Regions from separate parts of the Homo sapiens genome. Here region 1 is linked to region 2. The links come from fine-mapping of genetic effects on gene expression. Tissue or cell type: whole blood. Region 2 holds a variant in brackets; the other region holds the start of a gene. All regions are shown on one strand. Distances are from middle to middle.

Region 1 (6,662 bases), 28 kb after region 2:
CGTCCACAGTAATGGAAGCAACCTACCGCAGCCCCACCTGGAGAGCAGTGCGGACACAGAATTGAGGAAGGGGCACAGAATTGGCTGGCAACTCTTCCTTGGGTCTTGAGATGGAGGAAACAAATCCATAGGGTTCATTTGCTTGGCAAACCAGGGGAAGCCAACTCCTTTGCTCTGGTAGCTGTCTCATTCAAAGGCTAGGCCAAGGAAGATGGGGAGATGGATGCTTGAAACCTCAATCTCCCCACCCTCTGCAAGGGAGGCCAATGTCCAGTTGAGTCAGCTATCCTGGGGAGTTGCTTCTGACCGAGGGACAAGGTACAGGGAGAGTTGGATGAAGAGGTGGGTTCAAGGTGTAAACTGACAGATGCCATCTGGCTTTTAGCCAGCCAGCTGGACAGAGTAAATAGAGCAATTTCTTGTGGACATTTCTGTTTCCGGCATCTGGGGAACTAGTAAGGTAAAGCCTCCAAACTCATAGTGGCTGGAAATAGAGAACCCTCTGAGCAAGGAGCTGATGGACTGTGAGAGCAAGGAGAGATTGCTGGGTCAGGATGGGAGGGAGCTCCAGAAAAGAGAGACTTCTACCTCCCACCTTATCTCCATCTCATGACCACGCTTCCTGCCCCACTTCCTGGGAGGCCAGATGCCCATGGTGCAATGGGAGGAAGTAGGCTGGACTGGTTTGTGACTGACCCTCAAGGGGCAGTTCCAAGCTCATCTACTGGTAGGGGCACTGTCAATCTGCTCTCCACCTGAACACTCCCCAACCCCCAGTGAACCACAGGCCAGCATGGAGGAGAAGGATGTGTTTGACTGTAGCAGTGAAATTACTGTCGGGTAGGGGGGTGATTCAGGCTCCTTGGGGATCTGCCTGACCACACCAGGGATTTGGGGCATGAAATGTTAAATGGGTGTGGTGGCATGAGAAGCAGGCAAATTCCTTCTGCAGGTGCACCTGTCTCCCATGCCCCAACACAACCAGCACCCAGGCAAGGCGGAAGTGCCCTCAGGCACAGGGATTAGCGTTGCTATGAGAACAGCAACTTGTGCATGGGTTTGGAACCAGAGTACCTTGCCCACAGAAATGGAAGTCTGGGGACCCAGTTGGATTTCTACAACCTCCAGCCTTAGCGGCACCCTTTTCTCTGATCCGGGAGGGGAAGAGAAGCCATAGGGTTCCCCAGTTTATGCCCACCCTCGTCTGGCCTCCTAGCACGAGCAGTCAGTCCCTCCCCTGGAAGGAAAGGCTGAAGGGACCACCCAAGCGCTTGGTCCAACTCACCCCGTTTCTGCAGGCCTGCTCGTTCAGCGCTCGCACCCAAGCCCGCTGCCAGTTCTCCCGGAAAGACTTGAAGGCGAAGAGTGACGCCAGGAGGCCCCGGACTCCTGGCTCCTCGGCGGCGCCAGCCCGAGTCGCCCGCAGCCGCAGCAGCGAGCGCCACACGCCCAGCTCCCGCAGGGAACCCGCGGGTTCCCCGGCTAAGGCGGGTCCCGGGCCCCGGTCCCCGCGGGCCCGCGCCAGCCACAAGCCCCGGGCATATTGCAGCAGCCAGGCGAACACCGTGAGCAGCGAGGCGGCGAAGAGGATCAGCAAGGCCGCCCAGCCCACGTCCCGCTGCCCCCAGCCCGGATCCATGCTCCGCGCGGGCTCCGATCCCGGTCCCGGCTGGGGCTCACCCGCTGCCCCGGGGGAGCATGGCCCGGGCGGGCCGCGGGGAGGAGGTGGGCTCCCCCGGGGCTGGGCGCGCGGGGTCGGGGGCTCTCCGCGGCTGAGTGCCCAGGACTAGTGGGTGCCACAGGGCGAGGAGAGGAGGTCCTCGGGGGTCGCGATGCCGGGGTCTCTGTCTCCGTGGTCCGGGTCTCTCCTAGCTTGGTCAGCAGTCGGACCCGTTAGTCGCCGGCCAGTGCCCGACTCCTCCCACCGCGCGGGCCCCGCCGGACCCTGGAGGGGACTGGTCTGCAGAGACGCTGGGGCTCGCGGGCCGGCACCGGCTCCGGGAGGGCTGCGTGCGCAGAGCTGACACTGACAACACCGCCGGCGCCCCGCCCCCACCCGCCCTTAAAGGAGCCGCACCCGCGCCGGGCGGGGCCAGGACAGCCTGGCGCTCCCTCGCTGGAGGAGGGCGGGAGGGCTAGCAGCGAGCGGAGGAGGTTCCGGGGTTGAAAATAGGCGGGATCTTTGATCACCTCGCCCCATCTTGCAATCGCGGTGCTCCCACACTCAGCTCAAGGCAAGAGTAACTTCACTTACCTAAGATGCTGCCTTTGCTTTCCCCTATGCTTGTTAGATTTCCACAGGTCGGACGCCTGTGAGGTTAAGAAGGAGGTGACCCCTGTGGAAATCACCGCCCCCTTCTCCCAACACCCCCAGACTCAGCGACTTCTAGCTTCCCATTTCCTGGGGGAAGCTAGGCCCAGGGTAAGGAGACGCAGAGCGTCCCTCCCAGATAGAAGTGTCTGGCAGAGGTCCAGCTGATGTCAACAGAGAGAAAGCAGAACCTGAAGCTGGGAGAGGTTGAGAGTAGAACACCGAATTTGAATTCCCCCCACCATCATCACCCTCCTTCCTCTTGGAGCTTGGACCCAGAAACAGCCCCATTAACCTCCTTGCTCGTGTAGGTTTGTTCTGGAGATTCCCAAGCCCAGGCTGTGTGTCTGTTTTTAAAAATAATGTATTTCCATAGTAACAGCTCCTGCCTATGGAGCACGTGTAGAGGGGGTGGTAATGACAAGGGAGCTGGCAATGTAGCACTGGACTATCAATAGATTCAGCCACAAGACCTTGCCACTCTAAGTATGTGATATCCCAACAAGCTCCCAAGAAATGGTGCTGTAGGTACACTGCCCAACCTCTGGCCTCAGAAGCCATCTTTTCCTAGACTCAAGGAGTTGATTCAACCTCTACAGGACTGGGGCTCATCAATGCTTGCTGAGGACAGGGGAAGGAAATACCTGCAAAAGGATTCAAAGGAATCCTGGGGGAATTCACATTCTCCCAAGAGCCCCTTCTTCATACATGTGGGAAGGTCTTTGGCACACAGTCCCTTTCTTAAAGAGGTAGGATGGAAAGGTGTTAAGTATCTTTCTCCCAAACCCAAGTAGTTGTCTGAGGAATGAGCACATGAGAATAAGAGAATAAACAATGCCTTCTGAAGTGTGGGATGGCAGGGCTAGACAGAAACTGACAGGTCAGCAACAGGTTTGTCTGAGCCAGAGGAGGTGGTGGGGTAGCCTGGGCCTCCCTAGATTTCCCTGTAAGGAATGATGGGGAGAGGTGGGGGTGAATGAGGTAACCTCCTGTGGCCCTGCCCATGCATTGTCACTGGACTGCCAAATCAGTGGAGATTCCTAGAGTCTGGGTTTCTAATCTCAAAGGGAGGAGAAGACATGAAATCAAGGGAGGAGAGAACTCAGGGCCAGAACCAGGGATGCAGGAGGAAGCTGTCAGTGGGAAGAGCAGCTAGGGTTTAGGGGAGCAGGTTATGCAGGAAGTTGTCCAGGTAGAAGCTTTCCCTATGAAGACCCTCTTCCCCCAAGAATCCTTCAGGAACCCTCAGACCCCCTAGTGATCTCCATTCTCTGACTTCTTTGATTTATTCCCTCAACTTCTCCACTGAGTGCTTGGTCCTATGCTGCCAGATACTGCTTCACAATTCAGTATCTGAACTGTGAGTCTACCTAGTTACATGAGTCTCCCTAGTTAGTCCTCCCTCTTTTTTTTTTTTTTTTTCTCTTTTCTTGAGACAGAAAGTCACTGTTGCCCAGGCTGGGGTGCAGTAGCGAGATCTTGGCTCACTGCAACCTCCACCTCCCAGGTTTGAGTGATTCTCCTGCCTCAGCCTACCAAGTAGTTGGGACTATAGGCATGCGCCATCATGCCTGGCTAATTTTTGTTATTTTTAGTAGAGACAGGGTTTCACCATGTTGGCCAGGCTGATCTCGAACTCCTGACCTCAGGTGATCCTCCCGCCTCGGCCTCCCAAAGTGCTGGGATTACAGGTGAGAGCCACTGTGCCCAGCCTAGTCCTCCTTCTTTCTTCCATTACTTAGACCTCTAGCACTTACATTCTGCCTTAGAGTCTAGCTGATTGTTTATATGTCTGCTTTTTCCATGCATCAGGAAGCTGCCTAGGGGTGGGAACCATGTCTTAGTCATCTCTTTTCCCTCAAATTCAACCAAGATGCTCCAAATATGCTGAAGTAGACTCCCTGGGGGCAAGCAACTGCAATTATATTAGTTTGTATCCTCCACAGTACTGAAGAGCTTCCTATGCACATAGTAGGGATTAACAAACTTTGTAATTTTAAGAAGTCTAACAGAAAATACTCAAGTATGCTTTGAGAATTTCTATGCCATTTCTGTCTTTTGAAATATCATTCATGCCATACCAGTGGAATGGGAAATCCTGGGGCTTGCTTTTAATTAACAACTTTTTTCTAGACTAAGAGGGGAGAGGTGGGAGGAAAAGGAAAAAGAGTGATTCAGCTGACTGGACAGAGCCACAGATAGAGTCCTGCAAGTATCACAGCCCCAGACTATCCAGAGGGGTCTCATTGTCTTTGTGGCACTATGAAACATTTTTGGGACAGGCTTTGTCTAGCAATCACATTCAGTGGATTGGCCTTGCTCATTGGGAGCCACTCAAGGCTACTTAGAAGAGGTGTGCATCTCAAACACTGTCTGCTCAGTCCAGGGCCACTGACAAGTCAACTGGTCTGTGAATCCTAGGGCCGGCTTCAGCATTCAGGAAAACGCTTTGAACTTTTACCAGGGAAGGCACACAATTTCAAGTGAAGCCAAAAGTCATGTGTTTGTTTCTCCTTCTGATTAGTCTGATCATCAACTGGGACTTTATCATCATGGGAACAAAAATACTCAGATTATCTGACAAGTATCTTAGTAACCATTTTCTGATAGTAACATGTATATGTGGATGATGAATCCTTAGTCTCTCTTGTCTTTGATTACATCCTTCCACCCTCCCCAGGAGGGTGGTGGTAGGGAGGGCTAATGATCTCTGGAGAAGAAAGAGATAAAGCTTCCCAATACCAGGCTGGGAAGGAAGATTTATTAGGATTGGCCTCCTAATAAAAAAGGAAATAGATACAGACTGGCTCTCAGACCTCCAGGGAGTCTCAGTATACTCGTCATCAACAAGATAACTGAATGCTGCCTCCTCTGGGATCCCACAAGCTCCTCCTTTCCACCAGCTTCTGGTGTCTCACTGTCGCTGCCTGTGAAAGGTCCTTCTACTCTTATAATCTACTGAAATGATACTTCTCTTCCTCAAGACCACTTACTCTGGTCACAACTAATTGCTCCCTCCATATGCACCTATTGCCCTCAGTCCTCCTTTCAGCCTCAGCCTCATTATGTGTGATGATGCCTTCCTTGTACACAGATGTCTGTGTTCCTAGCCCCATGGGGACACCCTGTGGAAGAGAAAACACTTGCCTCCCGGGAGTTTCTAGTTTAAAAGGGGCACACGTGCATACACACAACACACACAGAAAAATAATAGCAGTGGGATAAGTACTGAAAATCTGGTGGAATACTAGCAAGTAAATTACGAAAATTTATGTATTTTATACATATCTGGGTTTTTGTTGTTGTTAATTAGAGCCATTTTCAAGTAGAAAAGCCATTTCACATCTGATTTAGTTTGTTTGTTTGTTTGTTTTGAGACAGTTTCCCCTCTGTTGCCCAGGCTGGGATGCAGTGGCATGATCGCGGCTCACTGCAACCTCCTCATCCCAGGTTCAAGCGATCCTCCTGCCTCAGCCTCCTGAGTAGCTGAGATTACAGGCATGTGCCACCACACCCGGCTAATTTTTGTATTTTCAGTAGAGACGGGGTTTCACCGTGTTGGCCAGGCTGGTCTCGAACTCCTGACCTCAAGTGAGCCACCCACCTTCGCCTACCAAAGTGCTGGGATTACAGACGTTAGCCACTGCGCCCGGCCTCACATCTGATTTTGAGGGAAAGAAGAAACTATCTTCGGCTTAAAAACGGTCAACATGACCCTGACTCCTGGAACATGCCATAGAGGGAAGAGTGGACAAAGCGCTAGGCTATTGGAGTCCTTTCCCTAACTCACTGGTGGTGACTTCCTCTCTGACAAATGGAAATCATTTGCCGCCTAAGAGCCTGTCGGGGAATGAAAGGTAATAAAGATGCTGGTGAACTGGCTGGGCGTGGTGGCTCACGCCTGTACTCCCAGCATTTTGGGAGGCCAAGGCGGGCAGATCACCTGAGGTCGGGAGTCCCAAACCAGCCTGACCAACATAGGGAAATCCCGTCTCTACTAAAAATACAAAATTAGCCGGGCGTGGTGGCGCATGCCTGTAATTCCAGCTACTGCCTGTAATCCCAGCTACTCGGGAGGCTGAGGCAGGAGAATCTCTTGAACCTGGGAGGTGGAGGTTTCGGTGAGCCGAGATCGCGCCATTGCACTCCAGCCTGGGCAACAAGAGCGAAACTCTGTCTCAAAAAAAAAAAAAAAAAAAAAAAAAAAAAGCTGGTGAATTGTTGTTTGCAGGGGAACAGGCCAAGCAAAATGCACAGCAACCTGCAGGAGGCCAAGCAAAATGCACAGTGACCTACAGGAAGAAACCTGACTGGGAGTTCCTCAGACTCACAGGAAATCAGTTGTGGGTCT
Region 2 (7,882 bases):
TTTTTCTTTTTTTTTTTTTTTTTTTTTTGAGACACTGTTCTGTCATCCAGGCTGGAGTGCAGTGGCACAATCACAGCTCACTGCAGCCTCAACTTCCCCAGGCTCAGGCAATTCTCTCACCTCAGCCTCCCAAGTAGCTGGGACTACAGGCATGCACCACCACGCCTGGGCTAAATTTTTGTATTTTTTGTAGAATTGGGGTTTTGTCATGTTGCTCAGGCTAGTCGCGAATTCCTGGGCTCAAGCCATCCACCCACCTCGGCCTCCCAAAGTGCTGGGATTATAGGCATGAGCCACTGCACCTGGCCTCTTTTTCAATTTTCCTTTTTAGTTGACACTTTTTTTTTTTTTTTTTTTGAGACAGTCTTGGTCTGTCGCCCAGGCTGGAGTACAGTGACGTGATCTCAGCTCACTCCAACCTCTGCCTCCCAGATTCAAGCAATTCTCCTGCCTCAGCCTCCTGAGTAGCTGAGACTACAAGCATGTGCCACCATGCCCAACTAATTTTTGTATTTTTAGTAGAGACAGGGTTTCCCCATGTTGGCCAGACTGGTCTGGAACTCCTGACCTCAAGTGATCCGCCCACCTCGGCCTCCCAAAGTGCTAGGATTACAGGCGTGAGCCACCATACCCGGCCATAGTTGACACTTTTTTATATCCACCCAGTTCTTCTAAGTCCTCTGTGGTTGTGGACTTGCCACAAATAAGAGAAAAGAAGTTATCTGCTTCCAACTCCTGGGCCACCTGCCTTCTCTCCTATCCCTACCCCCTTTAAGGAAGACTAAGACAGGGTGTCTCCTTAATCTTCAGACACCATGATGCTGGGACCAGGGTTGACTCTAGGTGAAATTCTAAGGTAACCAAATTAGTATCATCACCCTCCTCCCTCCAGGAGCCCACTGTCACCCACCACAGCCTTTAGTATCCTTCCAGAGGCCTCTGGCTGCCTAGACTACTCAACAGTGACCCCTCACTCCTGGTCCAGTACTTTCTAAGCCATGCATACTGAGTCCAGGATCCCAAGTCACCCCTCCTCCTAGGGAATGGAATCACATGGTAACAGACCAGAATCTCTTCTGCTGTCTCCATGGTCCAGATAGAGCAATGCGATTTGGTGTGGGCATGACTGAGAAGACTAGTAGGGAAGGTCCTTTTCATAGAATGCTGGCCTGCTCCCGAAGACACTGCTCATGGAAGAATGGATAGAGTCATTAGTGCTGCATTACTCAAGGGACACCCCACGCCAGTGCTTAGACACCAGCAAAACTGGGGAACTGAAAAATAAAAGAAAAAATTAGAAACAGAATTTGATAGTTAATCTATATACAATATATGTTTTAAGTATAATCATGTTGAACTTTAAATGTTTCATGGCTTAATATTTTCATTCTGATTACATATGAAAAATGGGACACCACAATCTTTTCAGAGTTTAGAACCTTTAAAGTCTTCATCTAGTCTTGGTTAGGTGGAAGGTCTCTTCCTGGATGAAACCTTTCCTGATCCCTTGCCCAGGTAGTACCATTACTCCTATTTGGAGCCTTCTAAATGTACCCTGATTAACTTCTATCACTCAGCTTACCTAGTCTTTCCTTGCTTCTGCATTGCAAGTCCCTCCAGGGAAGGTCCTGGGTTTTATTCATCTTTGTATCCTTAGCACCTGTGCCTGGACTATAGTAGGAACTCAATAAATGGCTGATGGGATTAATGAAGAGATCTTTTTCTTTCCACAAATAGACACACACAGTTTTTCTTTTCTTTCTTTATTTATTTATTTATTTGAGACGGAGTCTCACTGTGTCGCCAGGCTGGAGTGCAGTGGCATGATCTCGGCTCACTGCAACCTCAGCCTCCCGGGTTCAAGCAATTCTCCTGCCTCAGCCTCCCGAGTAGCTGGGACTACAGATGTGTGCCACCATGCCCAGCTGATTTTTATATTTTTAGTAGAGACGGGGTTTCACCATGTTGGCCAGGATGGTCTCCATCTCTTGACCTTGTGATCCGCCCGCCTCAGCCTCCCAAAGTGTTGGGATTACAGGCGTGAACCACTGCATTCAGCCTTAGTTTTTCTAGTAATAGAATTAGGTCTTACAAAAAAAGGCCCAGAGATCCTTTTTGGGCAGCTTCCTGTCCCCAAGACTATTTCCTTGACCTCTCCAGCATAGCAGTAGACCATAAAAATGGACACAGGGTGCTGAGAAGCAGCTGAACCAGACGAAATGATGATTCTTATTTTGGGAGGTTTCAATCTCTTTGATAATCTAGCAAAAAACAGATCCTTTCCCCAGGAAAATGCACATTCAGACACACAATTTTCTAGTTTGGTTCCTGGACCACTTGATTGCCTCCCTTCCCTGGGAGGCTTCCCAATCCTCTCCACCCCCCAGCTTCCTTCCCACTCCCAGGTAAAGAACCCCTACCCTAGAGGCACTGGGTTCTAATCAGTATTCAGAGTGAGGCCATGGTCAGCTGCCCTATCCTCCCAGTGAGCCCATTCTTGTTCATTCTATAGCACCACTACTGCCCACTCACAGCCAAACACCTGGGACCTCCATGGAAATGGCATACGCTCTGAGAATAGCGAAGTTTCACCAAGGGGAGGAGGAGAAGACAACAGGACAGTTAAGCAAACAAAAAACAAACCACCTGAGTCACCAGAAGGGGAACAAGCCTAACTATTCAGCTCCTCTTCTGGGTGGCTGTATCTCCTCATTACCTAGTAAACTGCCACCAAATGTAAGAAGAAATAAATAAGAGTCCAAGCATTTATTTTATTACCAAAAACAATTTGTTAATAAACACGCTCAATGCCTCCAATCCTGTCCCTGAGGATAATCATGAAAGTCCTTGGGGTTGTAGAGGAAACCTTAAGAGGAAAATGGCTACTTGGTTATCAATGCCTTGGCTGGTGACAAAGAAAGGACCCTTGCAGGGACCAGTCACATGCCATCCTTGGGCCTAAGGAGCCCGAAAGATGGGAATGGATGTGAGCTAAGGATTTAATCACTGTCAAGCAGATCTTGAGGGTTATGGTTAAGCCTGATAACAGCCTCTTTAACAAGAACACACACATCCAGGATCCCCTCAAAGAATCCAGAGTCCTCAGGCTCCCCACAAAATGTAGTCTGGCAGAAAAGGGAAGTCTTTAGAGTCTGCAGAATGATGCAAACCCAGGCCAGAGTGGACCACACTGCTCTCGGCACCACTCCTAAAGGCATCCATTGGCAACGGCTGCCCACTAGGGGCACTGCCACTTGCCTGGCTCAAACTTCAGGACCTGGGGAAGAAATGGTCTGGCTCTGCGGCCTTCAAACCATCTGGATCTCTGGCTCCTCAGCTATTCCTTGAAGCTTTTCCATGATGCCCCCTGAAGGTGGCTCAGGGGCTGGGGGAGGCTCCCCTGGGGCTTCAGACAGCACATAGTAGACGATCTCTTGCTGGCCTTGGGCATTGGTCTGATTCACCACGTGGATGACAGAACTGGGGTTGTCCTGAGAGGCTGAGAGGGCTGTCCCTTCGCTACCCTTGCCCTCCTCTTCCTCTTCCTTACGTCCTGGCTCCCCTGGCACTGTTTCTAGAATAATGCCCTGCAGGCTGCTCTCGTTCAGCGACGTTCCCAGGCCCGATCCCTCTTGTGGTTGCCGCAGCAGTTGCTGTGTCAGCTCTACACTCTCGTAGCGAACCAGCTGCAGCCGCATATAGCCATCTTCATGTTCCTTGTACCTGGTGAGGTAGGAGCATAAAGGGCAGCAAACCCAGGCAGGGGGATACAGAAATGGCCGAGGCTGGCAAAGTAAGGAACAAACATGAGGGATGGAAGAAGTCCTGGA[A/T]TCCAAGTGACAGGAGTTGAAGACAAAAAAGGTCTTTATTGGAATATGTAGAAGAAAAGGCAAGAGGGAAAGATCATTACTCAAAATGGAAAGTTTTATATAGAAACCCAACCAGAAAAACAGAGACTGACTGACTGTGTTGGAGGGTGAAAGTGTCAAAGGATTTATGAGAAGGCCTTGGAGCTAAGGATCAGAACCCTTAGACTCTAGCTCTAGTTCCAGCTGCAGGACTTTTTGGCACCATTTATTGGGTTTGGCACCATGCCTTACAAGATTCAAAAAACAGAAAAATAAGCTTTGCTCCACCATTATTCTTAGGATTCTTTGAATCTAAATGGAAATGGCAGACATAAAACCACCATCAAATTAAGGTTTTATTTATTTATTTATTTATTTTTGAGATGGAGTCTCGCTCTGTCACCCAGGTTGGAGTGCAGTGGCATGATCTCAGCTCACTACAACCTCCGCCTTCTGGGTTCAAGTGATTCTCCCACCTCAGCCTCCCAAGTAGCTGGGACTACAGGCATGTGCCACCATGCTCAGCTACTTTTTGTATTTTTAGTAGAGACGGGGTTTCACCATGTTGGCCAGGCTGGTCTCGAACTCCTGACCTCATGATCCGCCCACCTTGGCCTCCCAAAGTGCTGGGATTACAGGCGTGAGCCACCGCGCCCGACCCAAATTAAGGTTTTTAAAACTGGTTGAAAAGGTATAAAAACAAGTGTGTTAATCTGGGAAGGAGGGTTGAGAGACATACCGAAAACGGGGATGCCCTGAGGGCCACTTGAACTGGTGCTTCTTGCGAAGGTGCACGGTGAGGTTGTTGCCCCGTGTGAAGCATTTGTCACACACATGACATTTGTACCTTGGCTCAGAGTCTCCCTGATGGGGAAGGAAGGGAGAAATGAGACCAGCTCTTCACCCCAGGGTCCCCCATACTTCCACTAGTCCTTCCCAACACCAGCCCCACTCACTTCATGTACTTTGCGGTAATGGGACTTGATAGAGCAGAGGGATCGGGCACTGAAGGTGCAGTTCTCAAAATCACACCTGTAGGCTGGCTCCTCGCTGTGGGTATCCAGGTGCTTCTGGAGGTCAATAAGATTCTTGCAGCTGCCATGAGAAATCAGGAGGGATTGGAGGACATGGGGAACACTGGAACATGAGCTGTTTTCTGGTCCCTGGTCCCCCTTACCTGTAGTCACAACAGTCACATTTAAAGGGCCGGTCCTCACTGTGACGAAAGCGCATGTGGTTGCGGAGGGAGGAAGGCAGCGGGCAGGTCATGTCACACAGAGGGCACTTATAGTGATTCACTGAGAGAAGCAGAGAGGAGGCTGTGATGTGAGAACTTGTGGAACCTTGGAGGGCAGGAGGGAGGCTGTGGGCCGCAGGCCACTCACCATGGTTGCGCATGTGGTCCCGCAATAGCCGCTCTGTGGCAAATCTCTTGGAACAGTGAGAACACTGGAAGTGCTGCTCTGGGGTGGGGCAGGCAGAAGAAAGGAGGGCTGTAGGTGATAGTGGAGAGGCACAGAAAGGAGAGGGGAACCATCCCAGGCAGAAGGGAACCACCCAAGGAGAAAAGGAGAGCTTAGGGAGCTATGAATGGACACAGTATCATGGAAAGAGCATGGGACTTAGAGAACCTGAGTTAGAATTCCAGCTTCACCACTTACTAGCTGTGTGATCTCAGGTAAGTGATTTAACCTCTCTGAGCCTCAGTTTCCTCATCTGCAAAAAGGGGGATAAGAAGCCTACCTCATGGGGCTGTTGTGAGGATTCCCTAAGTAACTGATACGAGGTACAGTAAGTACTGAATAACAATGCCTACGAATCTGAATCAGCAAAGAGACTATGGGAGGTGCCTGAGCCCAAAAAGAAGAGGCAGCCAAAAGGCAGGTCTCTTCAGTGGCCACCCCCACTAGAAACATGCCCCTAACCCATTCCAAGCAGGACAGCCTGCATCCACCCCACTTCCTCTGACTACTTACGATCCAATGAGGTCTGGCGACGGATGTGATCTAAGAACTTGGTATTGTTGGCAAACATGCCCCCACAGGTGGGGCAGGCTACCACTTTCTCCTGGGTATGGCTGCGGAGGTGCTCTCGAAGTTTACTGCGGTCCTTGAAGGTGCAGGTACAGCCTGGGAAGGAAGCCCTATCAGTCTCCTGCCACAAAACCCCAGTTTTGCCTAGGATCTGGTACCCCTGAGTCTCTCCAGCCGGCAGTCAACCTTGCCCCTGTAGGACCCCTATCCCTTTCTGTCCCAGCTCTTCAGGAACCCCAGCGTTTCCTCCAGAAGCCACAAGTTAAGAAGCAGCCCTACCTTTCCAGCCACACAGCACCACCGGGTTGTCCTTGCCGACTGCTTCGTATTCACAGCACAGACTGTGTGCTTCCACATGCCGATAAAACCACTCAGGATTGTCGAAGGAATTCTGTGCCAGGGGCAACTTGGGGTGAGGACTGAGGGTGGGTAGAGGGACTCACCCCTATGTGCCCGAAGAATTCTTGGCTCTCTCCCAAATTAACTTGATGGGGATGGGAAATTTTGAGGAAAGGCACTGCACAGAAATGGAGGAGTGGCCGGGTGCGGTTGCTAAACCCTGTAATCCCAGCACTTTGAGAGGCTGAGGCAGGAGAATCACTTGAGGCCAAGAGTTCGAGACCGGCCTGGGCAACACACCCAGACCTTGTCTCTACAAAAAATTTAGAAGTTAGCAGGGCATGGTGGTACATGCCTGTAGTCCTAGCTACTTGGGAGGCTGAGGTGGGAGGATTGCTTGAGCCCAGGAGTTCAAGGTTACAGTGAGCTATGATTGTACCACTGCACTCTAGCCTGGGCTTCAGATCAAGAGCCTGTGTGTAAAAAATAAACAAATTTTAAAAGAGCAAAAGAAATGGAAGAGAGATACTAGCAGGAATCTTGGAAATATAAGGCATCCCTGAAAGGGACAAGGCATCAGAGTTAAGACCCCCAGCTTCCTTCCACCCCAATTACTGGCACTGCCTGCTGACCTCACAGTGCTCCCACAGACACAGGAAGTGGTCAGGGATATCAGGGATGACGTTCCGGCTCTGGAAGTCCAGGATGCAGGGGCCAAGGTCAGCCTGGCTTTGCAAGGCCTGCAGCCCCCACTGTTTCAGCTTGGTGTGGTAGCAGTGGAAGTAGACATGGCGGATGAGGTCAGCAGAACTGTCCAGAGAACAAAAGCCACATTCCTGCCACAAGCAGGAGAATTCTTCCTCTGTAGAAAGGGGTTTAAAAGGAAGAGTCTGACACTTTCCAAGGCTCAGGTCACCTTCCACCTGCAGCACTAAACAGAGAGTGAGGAGGCTGGACTCGTGAGGAGGCTGGACTCTAACCAAATTACCAGGGTTCATTTAGCAAATACCAGTATTTAATGACCATAAATTGTGTGCCAGTTAGAGGGACTATAACAAGTAAAAAGTGTCCCACTCCTTGCCCTCACATAGCTTTCAGTCAGGGAGAAAGCATATTCATCAAATAATCAGATCTATAAATATAAAACTGCAACCAGTGATGAGTGTTACAAAGCGGGGATATACATGGTGCTATAAAAGCATTAAACAGAGGTCATTTGACATGGTGTTCTGAGAAACGTCCCCATGTTGAACTCTGAAGTACGATGGATGAGTATCTGTAAATAGGTGAAGAAGTGTGGTCTAGGCAGAGGTGAGAGTGTGTGCAAGGCCTATGCCAGAAACAGACAGCAGAAATGGCCGGCACGCAAGTCCTCTGACTTGAGTTTCTGCAGTTCCTGATGAAGATGCTGCCTCTCGATCTGACACCTCCCACTTCTCCTTGTAAAACCACCACTCCTCCTTCCCCTCATGTTTTGCTCAAGATCTGCCTTCTCCAAGAAGGCCCCATCAACTCTTCCAATCCATTTCCTATCTCTCTAGCATCCCTAAGCACTGTATTTTCAGCGCTTTATATAAGTTAACTTGTTTTGAAACACAGATACTTTAGAAAATATAATCATTCCCCAATTTTGCCTTTGTATAAATATGACTTGAATTTTGA

Evidence for each region. PIP is the estimated chance that this variant, and not a neighbour inherited with it, causes the effect.
Region 1: it holds the start of C2CD2L, and the variant in region 2 is fine-mapped to the expression of C2CD2L in whole blood (INTERVAL, PIP above 0.99).

What each region holds. Positions count from the first base shown.
Region 1 is chr11:119,102,719-119,109,380 of GRCh38, reverse strand. C2CD2L (C2CD2 like) reads right to left here and starts at 2,037. Exons shown (of 14, transcript NM_001290474.2): 1 at 1,286-2,037. The coding sequence starts at 1,639. RefSeq lists silencers at 1,403-1,682, 1,753-2,202 and an enhancer at 6,260-6,662.
Region 2 is chr11:119,129,925-119,137,806 of GRCh38, reverse strand. It overlaps HINFP (histone H4 transcription factor), which reads right to left. Exons shown (of 10, transcript NM_198971.3): 3 at 6,853-7,082; 4 at 6,161-6,272; 5 at 5,825-5,977; 6 at 5,234-5,311; 7 at 5,026-5,146; 8 at 4,805-4,943; 9 at 4,588-4,712; 10 at 1,748-3,723. The coding sequence ends at 3,309. Among named protein-coding and RNA genes, the nearest start is that of HINFP, 12 kb to the right of the region's middle. The variant A/T (reference allele first, on the strand shown) is at 3,831.